Regions from separate parts of the Homo sapiens genome. Here regions 1, 3 and 4 are each linked to region 2. The links come from fine-mapping of genetic effects on gene expression. A gene starts in region 2. Each other region holds a variant in brackets. All regions are shown on one strand. Distances are between the middles of the regions.

Region 1 (6,054 bases), 90 kb before region 2:
CCTCTACCACCTGGGTTCAAGCAATTCTCCTGCCTCAGCCTCCCGAGTAGCTGGGACTACAGGCGTGTGCCACCATGCCCTGCTAATTTTTGTGTTTTTAGTAGAAATGGGTTTCGCTGTGTTGGCCAAGCTGGTCTGAAACTCCTGACCTCAAGTGATCCACCCACTTTGGCCTCCCAAAGTGCTGGGATTACAGGCGTGAGCCATCGTGCCCAGCCGGAAGGTCTTACTAGTATCCGTATTGAATACTTAAAGAAACTGAGGCTTTAAAAAAGTTCTGCAACTTGTAGGGTCACAGAGATAGGAAGGGATAGAGCTGGCTCTATAACCTATGTCCGAAGCCCATGCTCTCAATTATTATACTCGACTGCCTCTTAAAGATTTCCTCTATTTGAAAGGTAATTTAAATTTCGGTGGGAAAACTGCTGGTTATTATTCTCAAGAATAAACTCCACAACTTATGTGATTCTGATAGTGCAAACTCACCAGTATCCTACCATGAATCTGAGGATACGTTATCATTACTGTAATTACTGTCTAATCTGAACCATGTGAAAATAACTTTTATTTCTCTAGCAAAGGGCTATTCACAGAATATTGCTTTTGACCCATAGAGAGCTTCTTCTTGCTGTCATTTTAGGAGGCATATCCCTTTTTCCTTAATCTGTTTGGCTCAGAGCTAACTGTGAACTTCAGAAGTGTTTGTTTTGCCTTTTTAAAAATACCATTGCTTTAATGTAACTATAATTTCTGAGACTGATGCGAAAGTCTTGCTGGAAAATTAGACTTCCCAAAGGATCACAGTCAAGCAAAATGGTTCCACAATTTCTCATGACTGGCAGAGTTTTGGCAAAGTTTTGTGTAGCACTCAATCTCTTACTGGCTCAGTTTTTCCAGGGTTTTGACTTTCACATAGTTACAACCTTGAGGAGAGAAAACTTAGACATTCAATCAAGTTTCAGGACTTGAGTTATGATCATTACTGATCTAAATATTTCTTGGCATGTTTCATCTTTTTTCCTAGAACTGGATGCTCCCACTAACCTCCAGTTTGTCAATGAAACTGATTCTACTGTCCTGGTGAGATGGACTCCACCTCGGGCCCAGATAACAGGATACCGACTGACCGTGGGCCTTACCCGAAGAGGACAGCCCAGGCAGTACAATGTGGGTCCCTCTGTCTCCAAGTACCCACTGAGGAATCTGCAGCCTGCATCTGAGTACACCGTATCCCTCGTGGCCATAAAGGGCAACCAAGAGAGCCCCAAAGCCACTGGAGTCTTTACCACACGTAAGCTGAAAATTAAGTGCCTTTTCTTAACTATATTTACATTCTCTATTCTTCATGCTTTAAAACAAAACAAAACAAAACAAAAAAAACATTAAAAAATTAGTACATAATTTAAATCAGTGATACTAAAAATGTGCTCCATAGACTGGCTGCTGGCCCGTTAATTGTTTGCTGCTAGTCTGCAACAAGAAAAACGGTTGTGCCAGAACGTAAATCACAAAGCACACTGCTTAGTACAGCTGAGAATTTTTCTGAAGCCAGATTTTCTTGATGAAGGAAGCAGTGTGTTAATTTGCACACATTGCCAAGCTCGCTCTTTCCTCTAGGGCCAGCACTTTGAGTAACATGGGTTTAAAGCAGTCTGTTATTAGAAAAATTAAATTCGATTACATTAAATGAATTTACCAAACACTAGTTAACGCAAGAAAAAATTAGCACCTATGTCTACATTCTATTACTTTGGGCATTGAATAGTAACTATAAATGCAGAATAAAAATATCTATGGATTGAATGGGAACCAACTAATTGAACATGAAGCCAAGGAAATGATTTCTTTATGAGTGTTGGCTGCAGAAGATTAAAGTACTTTTGCAGACGGAATCGCTCTTTTCTTAAATTACTCTTGAAATTCCTCAGAGGAGAAAAATACTAACAATAATTTTTGGTCATGTCTATCCTTTTGCTCAACATTTTAAAGGAAGTGGTCTTAAATCTCCCACATATCTACATCACAATAACAACCTCTATTCACAAACCGATTCCTATTAAATACATTTCCATTTACATTACAGAGAATTATGAGACTCCTTATTTCTAGCTGAACATCATTTGTTATTTTCAACTCGACATTTTGAATTATAGAAGCACCTAACATAAGTACTTTTTCAGCATATATTCTAACCATGGACTAGTTTGCAATTTTCTAAGAGCTTTCAACAAATGTTACTCTTCGACTAATTTAAAAGTATGGAT[G/A]TTAAAAAGCATTCAAAAAGTCCATACAAGCCTAGTTTGTAAATAACTATGGAATTGATTTCCCAAAGAAAATACAAACTTTTCCCCATAAGAATTCATACTTTAAGAAAAACTTACTTCCATTTAAATTTACTGTATGAAGTTTGGCTCATGAAGGCTTTTTCCTAAATAATAGTTAATCGTAAGCAAGTAAAATTCACTTTTAATTTGCAAATAAGCTTACTTGAAAATTTGGCTAAAATTTTACACGGTTCTAAGATAGTCTAAGATCTACTCTCATGAAATTAATGTCTTTATATTTCTTGTAAATATTCATTTCTTATAAATGTCCTTCAGTGAATTAGAATGGAGATTTCAGTGAATGCGCCCTTTCAGTAGATGTCGTCTTTTACTAAAATGTAGAATTCTATAGTTGTCTTGTTCATTCCTTAACATGAGACATATTTTATGTAGTTTCTTTTGTTGAACACAGTGCTTATAAAAGAAAAAGCATTTTTAATGATGCTAACAATAATTAAGGGAAGGTGGTGGGCCAAGATATTTCAAGTACTTCTGAAGACTGATATATTGGATATATTATTTTATGCTTTGCATAATACATTCATATAAAATATAATGATTTTAACTGAAGTACTGATAGCCAAAACTAATTTTATTAGATAAAGGTTAACATAGTGTCTGGAACATTGTATGCTTTCAAAAACTATTTGGTGAATAGATAATTGAGAAAGGAATAATAATAAAAACAGCTAAATGAAGCTTATATTTAAATAAACTAATGTAAGCAGGGTATTCTACAACTCCATTTGAACTTTAAGCACTCCCTAAGGCTGTAAACATCCACAAGGCTTGCATGTTTTTGAAATTACTAAATTTCTGTAGTTTTTTACTATCTTACTAAGCTGAATTCTGGGAGTAACTTTTCTGAGTTTTATAACTTGTGCTAAATTCTTAAGAGCAAATGTGAGAAAAGTTAGGGGAAAAAGCTGTTTCTGGGGAAAATTCAGCTTAGTCTTATATTGATAGGGCAAATTTTATTTCTTTAACAGCTGGGCTGTTCTTCCCTAACAAGACCTGCCAGAACCCATAGCTCACACTTAGAATCACATCCTTTGTTTGACATCGTTTGTGGGTTTGTGGTTTGGTGATTTTCCCATAATGGCCTTCCCAGGCAGAGAGCATCATCTTAAACTTGGGAAGACTCTAGGTGGCTGGCTCAAGCAATAGAAAATACCTAGTCTTAAAGCCCAGGACAGTTGAGGCGAATATAATTTGTAAAAAAAGTTGTGGTTTTCACAGATGTTCAGTGAAAGAAACTGACTGTTCTCTGAATTGTTTTTTGTGGGCCATTAAAAATGGTCACACAGGGCTGGCCATGGCATTTTGGCACAGTCACCAGCAGTCAAGTGGTGTATAATTTCAGAGGTACTAAAAGGCATCGGGTCACCCATCCCAGTCATGTCCCCCCACCCCCCACCAAACACCATCAAAATAATAACATACATAGATGAAACAGCCCACTAAACCAGTAGTACCTCAATTCAGCCATTAGAGCTATCATTATGAAGTGGCCCACACATATATTTGGCTTTTTCTCACACAATATTTTTAAAATAAAAATAAAAAATGGCTCCTTAGAATCCAGACTGAAAAAAAAATGCGAGAATTGCGATGTTGATTCTAAATTCCCACATGGCAAAGAAAAAAAAATTGACTGGAGTTGAGTTGAGACTGGAGTCTGAACACTTTTTAATCCCTGTTTGTATAACTCTGGAGACTAATTCTTTGTCTTGCCAGCCATTCATAATTTAGTATAAATGCATTCAGAGGTTTTTTCCCAATGGGAACAAAATTTGATTGAGATGTAAAGAGAGGAAGAATTGTGGAGATGTCAAACATGTGACCAGAGCTATGAACACACTTGATACCCTTGAACTTAAACTTACCCAACTCAAAATATCTGGCCTTCTGCGATCTTACCTTTCTACATTTATAATAAGATTTGCAAGGTTGTTGGAAATCTCTATCTTAACTTTATATATACATGCCTCTTTCTTTCTTTTTCTTTCCTTTCCTTTCCCTTTCTTTCTTTCTCTTTCCTTCCTTCCTTCCTTTCTCTCTCTCTCTTTTCTTCCTTTCCTTTCCTTTCCTTCCTTTCTTTCTTCCTTTCTTTCTTTCTTTCTTTCTTTCTTTCTTTCTTTCTTTCTTTCTTTCTTTTCTTTCTTTCTCTCTCACTCTCTCTCTCTTTCTTTCTTTCTTATTTTTGGTGCTAAAACCCAAAACAAATCTTTTATTTAAAAATAAGATTTTTTTTTTTTTTGGCCAGGTGTGATGGCTCATGCCTGTAATTCCAGCACTTTGGGAGGCCGAGGTGGGTAGATCACCTAAGGTCAGGAGTTCGAGACTGGCCTGGCCAACATAGTGAAACCCCATCTTTACTAAAAATACAAAAATTAGCTGGATGTGGTGGTGGGCAACTGTAGTCCCAGCTACTTGGGAGTCTGAGGCAGGAGAATCACTTGAACCCAGGAGGCTGAGGTTACAGTGAGATGAGATTGCGCCACTGCACTCCAGCCTGGGTGACAGAGCAAGAGTCCATCTCAAAAAAAAAATTGTTTAAGTAAAATTTTATTTTCTTTCTTTTTTTTTTTTTTTTTTTTTTTTGAGATGGAGCCTTGCTCTCTCACCCTGGCTGGAGTGCAGTGGTGTGATCTTGGCTCACTGAAACCTCCATCTCCCAGGTTCAGGTGATTCTCCTGCCTCAGCTTCCCAAGCAGCTAGGATTACAGGCATCCACCATCACACCTGGCTAATTTTTATATTTTTAGCAGAGACAAGGTTTCACCATGTTGGCCAGGTTGGTCTTGAACTCCTGGCCTCAAGTGATTCACCTACATCAGCCTCCCAAAGTGCTGGGATTACAGGCATGAGCCACTGCGCCTGGCCAAAGTAATATTTTCAATAAGAAAAATAACAGTGATGTCAGGATGCTAGAAAATGCAAAATAAATTTGTTATAATTCCTGATTCTGGTGATAAAATACTAAATTTTTGCAGTATTATTCTGAAAGAATAATCACGTATTTAAAGTACAAATCTTTAGACTTCAAAGTGCATCCATGGTGGCAGATTTTGTTTAACTTTTATATAGCATCTTTTATTGCAACCAAAAATAGCTGACCATTATTGTGGAATAATTCAGCGTAAAGCTTTTTTTTTTTCTTTTTTTGAGACGGAGTCTCATTCTGTCACCCAGGCTGGAGTGCAATGGCATGATCTCGGCTCACTGCAACTTCTATCTCCAGGGTTCAAGCGATTCTTGTGTCTCAGCCTCCCAAGAAGCTGGGACTACAGGCATGAGCCACCATGACAGTTAATTTTTCATATTTTTAATAGAGACAGGGTTTCACCATGTTTGCCAGCCTGGTCTCGAACTCCTGACCTCAAGTGATCCACCCACCTCGGCTTCCCAAAGTGCTGGGATTACAGTCATGAGCCACCGATCCCCGCCCAGCATAAAGCTGTTTTTAGATCACCTTCTATAATTTACCATTGTTCTTAAATTAATGGTTAAGAAACAATATGATAATCAGTTTGTGGTGGCCAGTTTTACATTTTATAAGGGATTTTACACTGACGATATAGGGAAATTTATTGTCATCAAAGTCAAATCCCAACAATCATAAAAAGACATGAATTAGATTATATAATTTCAATGAAAGGACCACCTTAGCAAACATCTAACCCCTTGTTACTCAGGTATCATTCACGGGCCAGCAGAATTGGTATTA
Region 2 (6,054 bases):
CAATTAGCCATGATTGTGCCACTGCACTCCAGCCTGGGTGACAGAGTAAAACCCTCTAAAAAAATATATATATATAGCTTTCTCCTGCCCTCTTGCCTCTCACCCTTCATTCTTCCCTGAAGTCACAGAAATGAGAATTTCTCTTCCCCAGGGCAGTTTACAGAAACTAAAACTCTTTTTCCCCAAAGCCAGTCATAAGATTTAAACTTATGATTCTAACTTTCCACTGGCTTTCTGTCTAGGAGCTGGACGTAAAGAAATCCTCTCATCTCCTTGCCCATTAGTAGGTCAGGAGATCCTTAGGGGGTGGAGAAAGAATTTTAGAGAAGCCAAGAAGAATCTGGACAGACAGGCTTTCCTGGCTTTCTCCACCTCAGTCTACTAGCATACACCATATCCTTGCTGTCCAATCATACTTCCACCTTTCTGTCCATTCTTTGTTGAACCTAAACATAAAAATGGATGGTTTTTCCTCTGTCTTTGGGTCTTCATTCTGAAGGCTCTCATGTCATGTAAAACTTTGTTAAATAAATTTGTTATGCTTTTCTCTTATTATAACCTGTCTTCTCTTATAAAAATATTGGCCGTGACGTTTACGATGGAGAGCAAAGGATCACACCTTTCCACCCCTACAAAATCTTGGCCTCGGGTGCGGTGGCTCACACCTGTAATCCCAGCAGGCCAAGGCGGGCGATCACTTGAGGTCAGGAGTTCGAGATCAGCCTGGCCAACATGGTGAAACTCTGTCTCTACCAAAAATACAAAAAAATTAGCCAGGCGTGGTGGCGGGCGCCTGTAATCCTAGCTACTTGGGAGGCTGAGGCAGGAGAATCGTTTGAACCTGGGAGGCAGAGGTTGCAGTGAGCTGAGACAGTGCCATTGCACTCCAGCCTGAGCAACAAGAGTGAAACTCTATCTCAGAGAAAAAAAAAAAAAATCTTGGCCTCTTAACTAGCTGTGTAATCTCGAGCGAGTTACTTAACTACGTTGTGCTTAATTTCCTCACCTATAAAATGAGGATAACACTACCTAAACTAAAAAGTTGTTATAAGGACTATAAGAGTTTATATATGTAAAATACCACTGCAACTGAATAAAATACCACTGCAACTGAATGTGGCCTTTGTTGAAGAAAAAACAATTGCTCCAAGTTGTTTACATTTCATTCAGTGAACTTTACTGTGCTGGGGTCTAAATAAATCACTCATGGTGAACTTCTTATCCTTTCATAGAAGAGAAACACATTTACATTTCCAGTTTTTAAAGAAGATATGACCATAATGAAGATAAGTGAGGAGTGGGTATAGGTACAGAAACAAGACTAATCAGTTGATAAGTACCTAAAGTGGGTGACAGATATAGGACCCAAGGGATCATTATACTTTTCTACTTTTGATTGTGTCTGAAATGTTTCCATAATACAAAGTTTGGTGGGGAAAAAAAAGAGACTACAGATGAGGATTTTGCTTTACGAAGGTTCCATTACCATAGGAGGACCCAACTTGGCCCAATGGAAAGCACGCAGGTCTGGACTTTGAATTCTCATTCGGTTGCTGATGAGCAAAGAGCCAACTTGCCTGCCACGATTCTCACAGGTTTCCCATGAAAACCACAGAGACAAGACGCAAAAAGACATCCGAAAATATACAGTTATGTATTTGTTAATAAAGTAAGGCATTCTTACCATCTGAACTTGTTAAACTTAGGGAAGCTGTGTACTGCTCACATAGCTGGGAACTGCACAAAGAAAAGGTAATAACCTACCTCTACATGGATCTAGAAACCAAGAAGCAAATTTTCCACATGGCAACAAAAAGCAGACAGATATCCTTCATCTCTTTCATTCTAAAATATGTTTCAGGGGTGGTCATCTCGTTCCTCCCAACTCTCACTGCCGTTTATTAAATAGCTATCCTATAGTTTTTTTCATTTTTCTACCTTTCAGTAGACTTCCTCCCTCTCCTCCCAGAATGCCACTCCTTGACATCAGCAATGGCATCCTGGTTAATCATTTCTAAGTCCCTTCTTTCCATGGCCTAGTCAGCTAATGAAGGGCTTGTGAACGTGGGAATGAATGATTTGCACCTTCATATGGTTACCAGAGATTCTAAGGGAAGGCAGGTAAATTGGAATCTTCATGATGTCGAGTTTTATTAAATCACCAGTCAAAGTAACTGAAGTTTTCCTTGCATAACAAGTGGCCCACCTAAGTTAATCTGTTTAAGGAAGGGGCTAAGACTAGTGTCCTAAAATCAGGAACAGCACGGGTTCCAATCCTACTTTTCCCTTACTCAACTGTTTAAACTTGTGCAGAAGATGCTAAATCTGTCCAGTGTGTTGTCCAGGGTCTTTCTCTGTCACCCAGGATGGAGTGCAGTAGTGCCATCTCGGCTCACCACAACCTCCGCCTCCTAGGTTCAAGCGATTCTCCTGCCTCAGCCTTCCCAGTAGCTGGGATTACAGGCGTGTGCCACCATACCGGCTAATTTTTGTATTTTTAGTAGAGACGGGTTTCACCATGTTGGCCAGGCTGGTCTCGAACTCTTGACCGTAAGTGATCAGCCCACCTCGGCCTCCCAAAGTGCTGGGATTACATGCGTGAGCCACCTAGCCCAGCCGTCCAGGGTCTTAAAAGTTGCTAAATCTCTCTGAGCCTCACTTTTTTTCCCCATAAAGTGGGGAAGTATTACACCAACCTCACAGCGCTACTGGGAGGAGTAAATAAGGCGTTTTGCTGCTGGTGCCTGGAATACAATACTTCCTGGTTAATGTGATCACACTCCTTTCTGATGGAACTAGCTATGCCTTACCTGACTGCCAGACCAGCATCCCTGAGAGCTTTTGCAGTCCCTCCGGAAGCGACCAGATTCAAACCAAGAGCGGTCAGGTTTCTTGCAAATTCCACAAGGCCGGTTTTGTCAGAGACACTAAATAAGGCTGAAAGAGAAGACATTTTTTCTCATGATTCGCAGCACATTGCACTGTGTTCTGCAAGGCCTTGGGAGGGTCTGGGGGAGGAGATTCTCGAATCGCAAGGCCAGCACCTGGACCCTGCGTTCGCAGGCCTGGTCCGGGCCTCCCCAGGTCTTACACCCGCGAGCTGCTCTAAGGCGGGCCCCACGCAGGCTGCGGCCCGGCCGGGGAGCGGGGACGCTGGCTTTCAATCCCGCAGCGCCGCCCCTGCAGTGCCGGGTCCCGCCGGCCGCCGCCAAGGCGGGAGCGTGGGGGGCCGCAGGCGAGGACGCAGACCGCGCCGCTCCGCTAGGGCCTCACCGAGCTGGCCGGGAGCCATGGCTGCAGGCACTGGGTTCAGGGCGAGCGGGAGGCAGCAGCGGCGGCACCACGTGCGCAGGTAGGAGGGCTGCCGGGATGTGGCGGCTCAGGAAGCGAGGGGGCGGAGCTGTTTCCGGGCTTATCACGTGGCCCGCCGGCCCTGCCCGGCGCCCTGCTCTGCTCAGTTTCAGATGCAAGATCCGCGCCCCGGGGCTGAAGGGAACGGCGGGATGGGGTGGGGCTCTGCCTGGCGCGCCTGGGCGGAGTGCTTGGGCTGGAAGGGATCCTGCCTGCGATCCCGAAGTCCAGGCGTGGGAGCCAGCGATCTGCCCACGACCCCAAAGTGAGGCCACTCCACGGCCTCTGGGGCAAATGCCTGTTATTCTAGGCAGCCGGTCCCCAGAAGCTGGAAAGTACGTAAAAGTGCCAGAAGCTCCCATGCTGAAAACTAAACAAAAGGAATAGTTCATATAGCGGCAAAGCTGGAAAGTATCTGGACAGTTATCTACCATCCTCCCTTTTTGTTTGTTGTTTTTTTGTTTTTCTGGGTTTTTTTGTTTTTTTTGTTTTTTTTTTTTTTTTTTGAGATGGAGTTTCGCTTTTGTTGCCCAGGCTGGAGTGCAATGGCGCGATCTCGGCTATGTCACGTGCAACCTGCAACCTCCACATCCCGGGTTCAAGAGTTTATCCTGCCTCAGCCTCCCGAGTAGCTGGAATTATAGGCAGGCGCCACGATGCCCGGCTAATTTTTGTATTTTTAGTAGACATGGGGTTTCGCCATGTTGGCCAAGCTGGTCTCAAACTCCTGACCTCAGGTGATCCGCCTGCCTCGGCTTCCCAAAGTGCTGGGATTACAGGGGTGAGCCACCATGCCCAACTTGTTTTTTGTTTGTTTGCTTGCTTGCTTGTTTGCTTGTTTGTTTTGAGACAGGGTCTCGCTCTGTCTCCCAGACTGGAGAGCAGTGGCACCATCTCAGCTCACTGCAACCTCTGCCTCCCAGGTTCAAGAAATTCTCCTGCCTCTGCCTCCACACCCGTCTAATTTTTTGTTGTTGTTGTACTTTTTTTTTTTTTTTTTTGTATATTTAGTAGAGATGGGGTTTCACGGTGTTGGCCAGGCCGGTCTTCAACTCCTGACCTCAAATGATCTGTCCACCTCAGCCTCCCAAAGTGCTGGGATTACAGGTGTGAGCCACCGTGCCCGGCCCCATCCTCCTTTTTAATAGGCTTAAAAAATAAAACCAAGGACCAATGATTTAAGTGAGGGACTCCAGAGGCCACAGATGACAGTCAAAACGAAGTGAAATTGACATTCGTTGTTGATTTTCACGTCATAAAATTATAATTTAAATATTAATTTATAATACTATTTTATACAATTTAGTCAGTATTGTAAAAGTGCCTAAAAACTACTTAAAGATGGTGTCTTCTTGCAAACCTGTAAATATTCCTGGATGAGAGGAATGATGACAGTCAAAAGAAGGTAAGAGAAGACCTTTCTTAATTCATTAAAAACAGGGAAAGCAAAATTGAACACATTTGTTTCTTTCTAAAAATGACACCTTTGCCACAAAATAAATACATATTGTGGTCTATGAGTCTTTTTTGTGTTATTAGAATTATATTCCAAAGTAATAGCATTGTTTATCTTTTAGTCTGAGCTCACAGCTGTAAAAATGAGTCTATTTTCTCATTATCTGCATGCTATTTATTTTTGTTTTTCCTCTTCCTTTCTCTAATTCTTCCCATCTCTTTACTCCCCAAAATAAATACCTATTGACTAGAATCAATTTTTTTTTTTTTTTTTGAGACAGAGTCTCGCTCTGTCACCCACACTCTCGCTCTGTCACCCACACTGGAGTGCAGTAGCGCGATCTCGGCTCACTGCAACCTCTGCCTCCCAGGTTCAAGCGATTCTCCTGCCTCAGCCTCCCGAGTATCTGGCACTACAGGCGCGTGCCACCATGCCTGGCTAATTTTTGTATTTTTAGTAGAGATGGGGTTTCGCCATGTTGGCCACGCTGGTCTCGAACTCCTGACCTCAGGTGATCCACCTGCCTTGGCCTCCCAAAGGGCTGGGATTGCAGGCGTGAGCCACCGCGTCCAGCCTGGAATCAATTTTTTGACCTCTAAATATGTTAGCCCTTTGCTCTGAACACTTCTCACATTCCTACGAGGAATATATTAAGATTATCGCATGTCTTCAGTGTGTTTGCCAAATTTGAATTTAAAAAGGATATTTCCTTGGCCAGTCACCATCAGGTTTTTACAGGAAATCGAAAGCAAGGAAAGGAGAAAACAATGCTGACATTTATTGATAAGGGGAAATAAACAGTTGCTTCGGCATTATGCATTTGTCTGTCATGTGAATTACAAATATTTATTCGATTCAATACATTTTTATTGAGCCTTTTCTGCTTGGATGGCAGAAACTCAGTGTCAGAAGACAGATAAATATCACCTAAGCACTGTCCTCAAGGAGCTCATGATGGAATGAAAATGTAGACACATGAAGTATAACTAAAAAATATTAATAGAGGCCGGGTGCGGTGGCTCACACTTGTAATCCCAGCACTTTGGGAGGTGGAGGCGGGCGGATCACGAGGTCAGGAGATCATGACCATCCTGGCTAACACAGTGAAACCCTGTCTGTACTAAAAATACAAAAAATTAGCCGGGCGTGGTGGTGGGCGCCTGTGGTCCCAGCTACTCGGGAGGCTGAGGCAGGAGAATGGTGTGAACCCGGGAGGCGGAGCTTGCGGTGACCGAGATTGCGCCACT
Region 3 (6,054 bases), 830 kb after region 2:
GGAATACAGTGGCACATGCAACCTCTGCCTCCTAGGTTCGAGAGATTCTCCTGACTCCGCCACCTGAGTAGTGGGACTACAGGCATGCACCACCATGCCCAGCTAATTTTTTTTGTATTTTTAGTAGAGATGGGGTTTCACCATGTTGGTCAGGCTGGTCTCAAACTCCTGACCTCAAATGATCCACCTGCCTCAACCTCCCAAAGTGCTGGGATTATAGGCATGAGCCACTGCACCCGGCCAGATACAGACTTCTAAAGGTAAGAAGTGTTTATTCTTCACGTCTCAGTTTCAAACAGGTCCTTAATAATTTTCATGATGATACATTTTCATGATGATACATTTCCATGCTCTGGAAATACAGATGAGCTCAGAAAAGGTACTGCCTAAAAGCTCATTGGTATGGAATTTTGATATCAACATTATCATGATGCCAAGAACTTGTGAGAACATTTAGCTTGCAAAGGCCAAATTAAATTAAGGAAAATATTACACAAATGTTATCATGTTGCTTCACTTTTTACCATGTCTTAGGCAACCTTTTCAAAGGACTTTAAAATAAAACATGGTAGAAATAAATAAAATGTTTGAGCTTTAAAAACTTCATTGATTTCTGCCCGATGCCATATCTTAAAATTGAGCCCATAAAGAGGCCTAAGAGAAACTTCCTGTCTCTCTAACTAAGCTACCTAACAGGAGATGATTTTCCATTGTTCTGCCGTATGATCACTGCTTCAGCCAGCTGGGTGGTAAGTGTATGCCATTGTTCATAGGGGAAATTGGGAGAGCTGAAACTGAATACATGAGGGAACCACTAGTGGCTAGAGTTTGGCAGTCCCCCAGAGAACATCTAGTTCAAAGCCCTTCCTTTTAAGGCAAGGTACCGAGGCCTGGAGCCGTCAAGTGAGTTGCCCAGTGTCACACAATTAGGTAGTGGCAAATCTTGGGAAAGAATTCAGACTAGTTGATTTTCTTCCTAGCATCCTTGTACTGTACTGAATCTTGTACTCCCCCAAATTTGTCCATTCAGCACCTCAAAATGTGACCTTACTTGGAAATGAGGTCTTAGCAGATAATAGTTAGATGAGGTCATATTGGATTAGAGTGGGCCCTAATCCAGTAACTGGTGTCCTTATTAAAAGGAAAAGCAGACACGCAGGCGCATAGGGGAGCAGGCCATGTGAAGATGCAGGCAGAGATTGGAGTGATGCAAGCCAAGGAATCTGCAAGCCAAGGAACACCAAAGATTGCCAGCGATTGCCAGAAACTAGAAGCAGCAAGGAAGCATTCTTCTCTAGAGTTTCTGGAGGGAAGATGGCCCTTGCAACACCTTCATTTGAGACTTCCATCTTCCAAAACCGTTAGAGAATAAATGTTCTGTGGTTTCAAGCCACTCAGTTCATGGTACCTTGATATGGCAGCCCTAGAAAACCAATCCAATCCCTTCTGCTTCACCATGGCTTGTCTTGTGCAGCCCCATCCCTCGATCAAAAGCCCAAGTATCCCACCTCTGCCAGCAGGTTAAGAGTCTCATTCTCAAACGTGAATGGCAGCATTTTAATACATAAATCAAACGGCTTTCCTACTGACAAGCACACGTACTGTTATTTTTGTTCTAATTAGCTGTAAGTCACCTTAAATCTCATCACAGGAAGCAGTGATCTATTTAAGTTGAATGTAAACGTATTGCTGTTTTCCAAGGTGTTGTGGGTCTTGAAATCCATAATTGATAAAAGAGAACAGATTTTTGGAGGTCAGAAGGAGAGAAATACTGATATTCTGGGTACCAACTCACCAAATAATTGAAGACTTGACTGTCACACTGCAGTTTTCAAAATCTTTGAAATTCCTTTTTTTTTTTGCTTTTGCCAGATACATTATTCTAATTTTTATCATGCTAATTGAAGTTGAAAGCCTAACAGAAAAAAAAATAGTTAAGCCATTAACTCAGATTATTGTATTATGGCTTATCAGAGTCTATTTGCCTGCTCTCCATCTATTTGCCATCATGGACATTGTAGTGGTAGCTGGTACTCTTAGTTTGCACTCCATCTAGGCCAGACAGTAGTAAGGTGTAGGGCTGAAAACTCAGGCTCTGTGACCAGAAATGCTAGTTTCAACTGAAGTACTTAGGTTCTGTTTACATGACATGCTAAACAACCAGTCAATTAGAATGTCACATTTCAAGCCTCCTCATTCATATGATAGGGATATTAGCAGAAGGAGAGTATATTGATTGCAAGCTCACTGCCTGCAAACTGCTGCTGGTGGTCAAAGGAGAGGGAGGAAGGGGTAGCTGCTTTGCTACCAGGAATGGGTTGAGAGACTGCACACAAGTACTCTTAGAACAAATGGTCTTTTGACACTTCTGCCCCGCCCCCTCGAATGGGGCAGATGCTCAGAATCCAGGACAATAGGTCTTAGGGAGAAATAGGGGGAAAAATTCAAACATCAAACTGGCTATCAAGTAGACTGAAATTGATGTTAAATAAACCTTATTATTATTATTTTTTTGAGATGCAGTTTCACTGTGTTGCCCAGGCTAAACAGCCTCCCAAGTAGCTGGGATTATAGGTGTTATACCACAGTGCCTGGCCATTAAAGAAAAAAA[A/T]ATATATATATATATATTTATTTATTAACTTTTAATATTAAATTTTTTTCTCTCTCTTCAAACTGGTAAATATATATATTTGTTTACCAGTTTGGAGAGATATATATATATATGTGTGTGTGTGTGTGTATATATATAGATACACACATATACATACACACATATATATACATACATACATACATACACGTATATATGTGTGTATGTGTATATATATATTTTACCAGTTTGGAGAGACAGAAAAAATTTTCTCCATGCTGGTACTGGGGTCAGTAATGGAAAGGATGGTTCACAGGCTCAAGAAGGCATTATGAGGGAGGAGGAATTGAGTAGCGTGTTTTAGGAGGAAGCTTGTTGCTTTACATTTTCTTTATCCACATTAGAATTATTAAAAATCTTTTTTCTGCATACTATCAGATGCTATTGGTGAGCACCGAAGAGCATGAAGGCCTATGGCAAATAACACTTTTCTTAAGGTTGTGAGTACATAGACTCCTATTTGGTTTTTAGACCTATTGCGACTGTTCATTTTAGTTATTCTGCCATGTTTAGTGTGGCTGCATTTATTTTCGTATATTTTTGCCAATGTTTCAATCATCAGTATCCCAGATCATGATACTGTCTGCCTTAGTGGAATATGTGCTTTAAAATCAGGGGTTGGTTTGCTTTGAGCAATATTTTATTTTCTCCGTTAATTGCATTGTCTTCCTTGTATTGAACATTTCTTTTCCCCTGTTAACTAAGAACATTTACAAAATTATACTAGGCACCAGTATCTGGGAAGTGGCATCTTAAATGAACACAAACCTTTCTGTTATTTTTATTTTCAAGAATACAATAAAGTATTTGTGATGTCTTCAAAAGAGCAAACTTGATGGGATCAATGCTATCATATTACAAAATTAGAATGTAAGTCAATATTTCAGTATTTGTAATGCAGCTTAACATCAGGACTATAGAATTTGTGTAAAATTTAAAAACCAGCATCTTTAGGTACATCAGATGTCAAACTATTATTTGTGGTTACTTAAAAATATATCCATGTATCAGTTGTGTATTGCTGTATAACCACACCAAATCTTGCTGGGTTTAAACAACAATGATTAGTTCTTTCTCATAGTTCTGGGGGTTGACTGGACAGTTATTCTTTTGGTCTTTTTTGAGCTCACTCACAAGGCTTCAGTCAGCTGTCAGCTCAGACCTAAAGAGCTCAGATTTCAAGAACATCTAAAAATAGCCTCATTCACGAGTCTGAGATCCCAGTCCTAGCTGTCAGCTGAGCCTTTTTCTCCACATAGTCTCTCATAATTCAGTAGTCTAGCCTGGACTTCCTTACATAATGGTAGGAGTGTTGCAAGATGATGAAAACAGAAGCTGTAAGATCTGTTAAGGCTTAGCCTCAGAAGCCTCCCAACATCATTTCTGCTGCAATCTATTTGTCAAAGCAATTCATAGCCAGCCCAGTTTTGGGGAGTGGAGAAATCGACTCCACCTCTGTTTAATGGGAAAAGCAGAGTCACATTGAAAAGGGAGGTAGACAGAGAAGGACATTGGTGTTATTATGGTGAATCCCTATTGCCATTTTCTAAGCTGATTTTTTTTCTTTGGAGGTTTGCATTTCTCTGCCCCTACAGTCTTCTTCCCACTTAGCTCAGTACTTTAGCTCAGTTTGGCTTTAGGTTATAATAGTAAACAAATCACTTCATCTTTTGCAGCAGAGATTACTAGTTGTCCTCCAAAATCCATTCTTTCTTTCTTCATCAGAAATACATCTACCTTTTTTTTTTTTTTTTTTTTTTTTGGCTTGGCATATGGACCTCTGAATAAAGAAGACTTTTTCAGCCTTTTATTCTGTTAGGTGTGGTCATGGGACTGATTTCTGTCCAGGGGGATGTAGACAAATGGGATGTACTTTAAGGAAGGGAGTGTGCCTATTTTCCAAGCTCCTTCCTGGAGCTTGGAGTGCAGATGTAATAACTCATGTTCCAGTAGCCATCTTGGATCATGAAGTTATCCCCAGAATGAAAACCATGTCTAGTGGACTAATAAGATGAAAGGAGCCTGGGTCCCTGACACCAAGAAGTGCTACACTAGCCCTGGACTGATTTATTCTAGATTTCTTGAATGTGCAAGAGATAGATATTTCTAAACTGAGCGTGATTCTTTGGGCTTTTCTAATATTCGCAGATGAACCTGAATGCTAACATATCTCCTTTCATTTTACAATTAGAGAGCCATTCTGAATGTATTGAATCCATATCAAGTAATTGTCCATTCATCTTCCAATATCATGCAGACATGGAAACTTAATCATCTTTGCTTTTAGTCAACCATAACTTTAAAACATATCACAAACATCTGGGACTTTAGGTTTTTTCTAGTTTTGTTAATTCACATTATCTCTTTTATTACCATACAATATCAGGAATTAGTAAGAATTTTTTAAAAATTCATTTGCCCTTTAGTATACACAGGGCATTAGTTCCAGAATCCCCAAGGATATAAAAATCTGCAGATGCTCAAGTGCTTATGTGAAATGGTATACGTAATATTTGCATATAGCCTACTCACATCCTCCCATATACTTTAAATAATCTCTATATTACTTATAATATGTAATACAACGTAAATTCTGTGTAAGTAGTTGTTATACTACATTATTTAGAAAGTAATTACAAGAAAAAAGTCTGTACATGTTCATTAATGACACAACCATCCTAGGATTAACTACATTTTCAATCATCATTGGTTGAATCCATGGATGCGGAACCACAGATAGAGAGGGCCAAGTGCAGTGAAGTATTAAAAACTAATACAATCTTATTAGATTGAATGTTCTTTCTTCTTGCTCTATATCCAGATTATTATTATTTTGAGACAGAGTCTCACTCTTCTTGCTCAGGCTGGAGGGCAATGGCACGATCTCAGCTCACTGCGGATTCAAGCGATTCTCCTACCTCAGCCTCCTGAATAGCTGGGATTACAGGCACCCGCCACCATACCCAGCTAATTTTTATATTTTTAGTAGAGATGGGGTTTCATCATGTTGGCCAGGCTGGTCTTGAACGCTTGACCTCAGGTGATCCGCCTGCCTCAGCCTCCCAAACTGCTGGGATAACAGGCGTAAGCTACCATGCCTGGTTCAGATTATTTTTAAAAATTTAGGAACAGTCAATTCCTTGAGAAAGTGGACCTGTTAGTAGATTTTATATTTTGATTGCTTCTTTTTGATGGGTACAAAAAGAGATAAAAATTCAAAGTTTTATAGTCCAAAAGTCCAACAACAGGGCACAAATAGATAAATAGGGAGAATAAATGAAGTAAAAATTTTGTGGTCATTAAAAAGATAAACACTATGACTATCAAAAAATAAGATATTTTTATGGAAAGGATTGTCCATTTACCATGAATATACCTGTAAAAGATATTAGGATGGGAAGTTT
Region 4 (6,054 bases), 40 kb before region 2:
CAAAAATAAGGTATAAAAATGTCCATGAATGGAAAGCACTGCGAGCTTAAAGACCTGCAGGGTTCTGTGCTCTGAGGAAGGGACATAGGCTGGGCTTTAGAAAGGTGGCCTGGAGAGAAGCAGGTGTCAAAGGGCAAGGCAACGGGAGGAAGAATGGAGGATCCCTTTCATGGACTGTTTTCTCCCTGTGCCCAGGGGATCCCCCAATAGAAATACACTCAGTATTGGTCAGGACGTTGTTACATTATGGATCTTCTGTCCTTCTGCTGGAAACAACAGACATAAGATCATTATGCATTTCACTTAAACACCAGTGAAACTCCACTCTTGACGTTTCGAATGATTGAATTATACTAGACATATATATGTTAATGGGGTTCCAGTGCCAGACCCTCCCAAAGTGCTCAACTTCCTTGGTTACTGGCTACCTCCACCAAGATTAACTTGAGTACATATAAAGGAAAACACCACCTCACAGAGCAAAATATGAGGAACCCAGGAGTAAGCTTGCATGTGAGGGGTGGCACTTTGGCTTAAGGCAGGACACTGCTTTTTTTGGCATAACACAGGGAAGTGAGACAGTAAAATGAGAAAGGAGCTGTTGACAGCCCTAAACTGAGTCGTTTTCCAGAGTGAAGAATGGTTGCTCTTATTGCTTGGGTGCTCCTCCCCGGGGTTCATTCAATCCTGTCCTTCATGAACCCCTTGGGGCTGGCGAGGAGTGCATCAGCTGGGCTGTCTCAAGCACACGCTGCTGGGTAGCCAATGTTAGTCAGGGAAAATGAGCTCACAGGCCAACATACCACAACACTTGAGTAAAGAGACTTTAAAAGAATAGTAACATACTAGATTACAGATCCTAACAGAAGTAGAAATAGTAAAACAAAGCTAGAAAGATGATACCAACAATTGGAAAAGAAAACCAGAAATATTTGAAGGGAAAAATAAAACTCCTGAAATAAAGGGCTCAATAGACAGGACACACAGCAGAATGGATACATTGTAGGAATTCATGAGAAAATTAGAAGACCAGACTAAAGAAATCTCCTGGAGGGACGAATAAAGAAAATGAAATATAAAATATAAAAGAAAGGCTAAGAGATATAGGAATTGCTTAGAAATGCTAACATTTGGATAAAAAACAGAAGAAATGGGAGAGAGGAAATATTAGCACAAAGAACAGAAATAAATTTCCTAGAATGAAAAACCCAGAGTGCCAACAAAGGGAAATACAAATAACACCCACACCTAAACACATTATAGAAGCTTGAAAATACCCAGGAAAAAATTAGTTTCCTGAGAAGGCATGGTGGCTCACACCTGTAATCCCAGCACTTTGGGAGGCTGAGGCGGGTAAATCACCTGAGGCCAGGAGTTCAAGACCAGCCTGGACAACATGGTGAAACCCTCATCTCTACTAAAAATACAAAAATTGGCCGGGTGTGGTGGTGCACACCTGTGGTCCCCAGCTACTCGGGAGGCTGAGGCATGAGAATCGCTTGAACCATGGAGGCAGAGGCTGTGGTGAGTGGAGATCACACCACTGCACTCCAGCCTGGGCATCGGCAACAGGGAACGACTCTGTCTCAAAAAAAAAGTTTCCTGACAAGGAACAAGAACCAGATTGACATCAGATTTTAAATAAACAATGGATGCAATAAAAAACCAAACAGTGTTTTCAAAGTATTAAAGAATTTAAAACCCAGAATTGTAAGCATAGCCAAAATGAATTCAAATATACAAGCATGATAAAAATATCCTTAGTTGGCCAGGTGCAGTGGCTCATGCCTGTAATCCCAGCACTTTGGAAGGCCGAGGCGGGCAGATCACTTGAGGTCAGGAGTTCGAGACCAGCCTGGCTAACATTCTGAAACCCCATCTCTACTAAAAGTACAAAAATTAGCTGGGTGTGGTGGCGTGCACCTATAATCCCAGCTACTCAAGAGGTTGAGGCAGGAGAATCAATTGAACCTGGGAGGTGGAGGTTGCAGTGAGCTGAGAGCATGCCATTGCACTCCAGCCTGGGCCACATGAATGAAAATCTGTCTCAAAAAACAAAACAACAACAACAACAACAAAACCTTAGACATGTAAGATCTCAGAAGCTTCATCACACAGACACTGCACACAGTTAACACAAGAGGAGAAACTGGAGGCACTGCAATAGATAGATGAAGTGAAGGTAAACACAAACCTTAGAAAGTCTGGTCTTAAAAAATAGGCTAAGTGAAAATGTGACCCCAAGTCCAGGAATCAACAGGAGTTTGGAATGGGGTGGGGTAGGTAGGGGTGATGGGGGAGAAACTGGGAGTTAAAGCTTTTAGCTTATTAGGGGGGAAATACAACCGTACATTCAAAACAATGTCAAGGAAGGAAATAAAAGTGGGTCAAACTTTACAGGATAGTAAAAATAGGCCTCAAATGTATCAATAATTGAATACAAATAGGCTGAGCGCAAAGGGAAAGGTTCACAAAATGCATTAAAGAAAACTCAAAACCAAAAGCAATAATAACTTTAAACATGGTCCGTGTTTTTAACCTCAAATATATAGGAAGTGAACATTTATAAACCTGCAGGAAGAAATTGGAAAACTCATCCTCATGGAGGGAAGTCTCAAAACCTTTTTCTAAATTCTCAACAAATCAAACTAAAAAAATTTACATAACTACGGCTATCAATGTGTAAGAAAGGAGCAGAGGCACAAATTAAACGACATCACAGGAATGCAAGGGCACAGCCCAGCACGTGGGAACTATGAGACCAAAAATCTTCAGTCAATCGACTGCAAGAAAAAAATCTAAAGAGGAGAAACCAGGTGTTGAAGATACTTGAGACATGCCAATCAAATGCAATGATGTACCAGGCTTGGGTTGCACAATCAAAAAACTGAAAGAAAAAAAAAATTAGCCATTGGGAGAGATCTAAAGGTGACTGGGTATTTGATATTCAAAATGACTTATCCTTTTAGTATGATACTTGAATGTGGTTATATACTTTTTAAAATAGGCTTTTTATTTTCTAATAGTTTAATTTTTTTTTTT[TC/C]TTGAGATGGAGTCTTGCTCTGTTGCCCAGGCTGAAGTGCAGTGGAGTGATCTCAGCTCACTGCAAGCTCTGCCTCCCAGGTTCAAGCAATTCTCCTGCCTCAGCCTCCCAAGTAGGTGGAATTACAGGCAGACACCACCACACCTGGCTAATTTTTGTAATTTTAGTAGAGACGGGGTTTCACTATGTTGGCCAGGCTGGTCTCGAACTCCTGACCTCAGGTGATCCACCCACCTCGGCCTCCCAAAGTGCTGGGATTACAGGTGTGAACCACCATGCCCGGCCTATTTTCTGAGTTTTAGATTTATAGAAAAAATTGTGAGGATACATCACACCTAATTTCCCCTTTTATTAGTATTTTACATTAGCATGGTACATTTATTACAATTAGTGAACCAATATTGATACATATTAACTAAACACTTTAGATTTTCTTAGTTTTTACCTAATGTCCTTTTTTTGTTCCAGGATGCTATCCAGGACACCACACTGCATTTACTCACCACATCTCCTTAGGCCCTTCTAGGCATGAAAGTTTCTCATGCTTCTCTTTTTGATGATCTTGACAGTAGGAAGGTATTTTGTAAAGTCCTTCGGCTAGGTTATATCTGATGTTTTTCTCATGATTAAGCTGAGAGTACAGGGTTTTGGAAAGAAGACCAAAAAGGTAAAGTGCTATTCTCCTATTTTGAGGTATTTCCTAGCAACATGACACTATTGACGTTGACCTTGATCATCTGGCTGAGAAAGTGTCAGTTTTCTCCACTGTAGTTACTATTTTATTCCCATTTCTATACTCTCCTCTTTGAAAGCAAGTCACTGTGTACAGGCCACACTTAAGGACTGGGAGTTATACCCCTCAGTAGAGTATTGATGTAAATTACCTAGAATTCTTCTGCATGGGAGTTGCATATTCTCCACTTATTTATTCTTCATCTATGTGAAGAATACTACAAACAGGAGCCACCATGCCCAGCTAATTAAAATTTTCTCTTTTTTTAGAGATGAGGATGTCGCTATGTTGCCCAGGCTGGTCTTGAACTCCTGGCCTCAAGCAATCCTCCCAAAGTGCTGGGATTATAGACAGGAGACACAGTGCTCAGCCTGTTCCCATTATCATACCCTTAATGTTAACCTTTGGTCAAGCCAAAGAACCATGAAAAAGACAACACACACTTAATTTACAAGCCAAAATCTGTATTAGCTATTTACTGCTACATAATTACCCCAGAACTTTGTGGCTTAACAACAGTATGCATCTCTCTGTATCTGTGGGTCAGGAATTCAAGAGCTCTTTTGGGCAGTTCTGGCTCAGGTCTCTGAAGAGGTTGAAGCCAGATGTTGCCTGGGACTGAAGCTGGAGGATCCACCTCTGAGATGGCTCACTCATGTGGCTGGCAACTAGTGTAAGCAAGATGGCGTCTCTCCTTGTGGAGGGCTGCTTAACTCTTACAACGTGGTCTTGGCTTATCCCAGAGGAAGTAATCCAAGAAACTAAGGCTGAAGTTGCAATGTATTAGGACCTAGCCTCAAAAGTCTTATTTTTTCTGCAGTATTTTACTGATCACACAAGTCAGCCTTGTTTCAATGTGGGCAGGTCCTAGGCCAGGGCTGGAAGATTAGCTTAACCAGAAATAACTTAGAAAGATGACCATTAAGAAAAAACTTCAGAAATTTTTATTTAGCAAGGGGATAAGTTAAAGACTTGGGAAGAGGGTAGGACTCATTGGTAAAGGTGAACAATGGCAAAGGGTTTTAGTTGAACACAGGTGCAATGCACGGGAATGGTCAGGAGCACACAGGCAGGACACACAGATGCACAGGTCTGTCCTGATGAAGGAAGGCACTGCCCTCCCACTGTGCCCACTGTAGTGATTAAGCCTGTAATTGGAATATTGGGTACAATTTCTGAGCACCAAATATTGACTACATTTTTATGCAGCTCCAGAGGGTGAATCTCGGGCTGCTGAAATTCTGGGAAACATTTCACTTAGCACTGAGAAAAATATACATCAGATTATCCATAGAGGGGGTCAACAAGACTTAAACCAATCCCCTCTAAGGTTCCAGTTCACAGGTGCCAATCTGCTGTTTGTTTGGAAAGTAGACAACCAAGCTTCTCAGAAGTGTGATTAAAAATAAATGGCATGAGGGCCGGGCACGGTGGCTCACGCCCGTAATCCCAGCACTTTGGGAGGCCAGGGCGGGTGGATCATGAGGTCAAGAGTTCGAGACCAGCCTGACCAACATGGTGAAACCCTGTCTCTACTAAATACAAAAATTAGCCAGGCATGGTGGCACATGCCTGTAGTCCCAGCTACTCAGGAGACTGAGGCAGGAGAATCGCTTGAACCCGGGAGGCGGAGGTTGCAGTGAGCCAAGACGGTGCCACGGACTCTAGCCTGAGTGACAGAGCTATTTTTTTGAGACTCCCTCTCAAAATAACAAATTAAAAAAATGAAAAACAAACAAACAAAAACGGCATGAGAAGACTCCCCTAGGAGGCAACATGGACCTTTAATATACAACTCCCATGCAGAAGAATTCTAGGTAATTTACATCAATACTCCACCTTTAAGATGGGTATAACTCCCAGTCCTTAAGTGTGGCCTGTACACAGTGACTTGTGCCATGTCCTCTGGCTGCTCAGCTCGTTTGGTTCCTGCTAATGTTTATGTTTCACACGGGCAGTGCTGTGGGATGGGCTGAGCTCCGGTAGGCAGGGGTGCTCTGGAATTCCTCATTTATGTGTTATGTGTCATGTGTCAGTTCAAAGAGCCTGCATCTTTAACATAAAACACAACTACCAAAAACTATGGATCCAGTGATTAAGAGATACTGTTTTATTTTTTTAAAAAGTTATCCTCAAAGTTTCAGGCGTGACTGTTCACCTACACATAAGCAAGCCAAAAAACAGTGTGTGGTAAAATCAGTGGTGGAAGAGCCGAAGGTTCGTATGAGCGAGGATGATTCCCAGTTCGTCGCAGGCCTCAATCACAACTTTGTCAGCA

The links. PIP is the estimated chance that this variant, and not a neighbour inherited with it, causes the effect. A credible set is the group of variants that fine-mapping cannot tell apart.
Region 1: its variant is the best candidate, but not a certain one, in a credible set for the expression of ATIC in whole blood (INTERVAL, PIP 0.75).
Region 3: its variant is the best candidate, but not a certain one, in a credible set for the expression of ATIC in monocytes (BLUEPRINT, PIP 0.54).
Region 4: its variant is the best candidate, but not a certain one, in a credible set for the expression of ATIC in activated naive CD4 T cells (Schmiedel 2018, PIP 0.84).

What each region holds. Positions count from the first base shown.
Region 1 is chr2:215,399,626-215,405,679 of GRCh38, reverse strand. It overlaps FN1 (fibronectin 1), which reads left to right. Exons shown (of 46, transcript NM_212482.4): 20 at 1,025-1,291. Among named protein-coding and RNA genes, the nearest start is that of FN1-DT, 33 kb to the left of the region's middle. The variant G/A (reference allele first, on the strand shown) is at 2,265.
Region 2 is chr2:215,309,381-215,315,434 of GRCh38, reverse strand. ATIC (5-aminoimidazole-4-carboxamide ribonucleotide formyltransferase/IMP cyclohydrolase) reads right to left here and starts at 3,376. Exons shown (of 16, transcript NM_004044.7): 1 at 3,274-3,376; 2 at 2,811-2,937. The coding sequence starts at 3,292. It overlaps LOC124907975 (a long non-coding RNA gene), which reads left to right and starts at 3,463. Exons shown (of 2, transcript XR_007088075.1): 1 at 3,463-4,756. RefSeq lists silencers at 3,032-3,401, 3,412-3,491 and an enhancer at 3,022-3,672.
Region 3 is chr2:214,479,223-214,485,276 of GRCh38, reverse strand. All of the region lies in intron 3 of VWC2L (von Willebrand factor C domain containing 2 like), which reads right to left. Among named protein-coding and RNA genes, the nearest start is that of VWC2L-IT1, 28 kb to the left of the region's middle. The variant A/T (reference allele first, on the strand shown) is at 2,612.
Region 4 is chr2:215,349,574-215,355,627 of GRCh38, reverse strand. It overlaps ATIC (5-aminoimidazole-4-carboxamide ribonucleotide formyltransferase/IMP cyclohydrolase), which reads right to left. Exons shown (of 16, transcript NM_004044.7): 16 at 5,864-6,054. The coding sequence ends at 5,973. Among named protein-coding and RNA genes, the nearest start is that of ATIC, 41 kb to the right of the region's middle. The variant TC/C (reference allele first, on the strand shown) is at 3,043.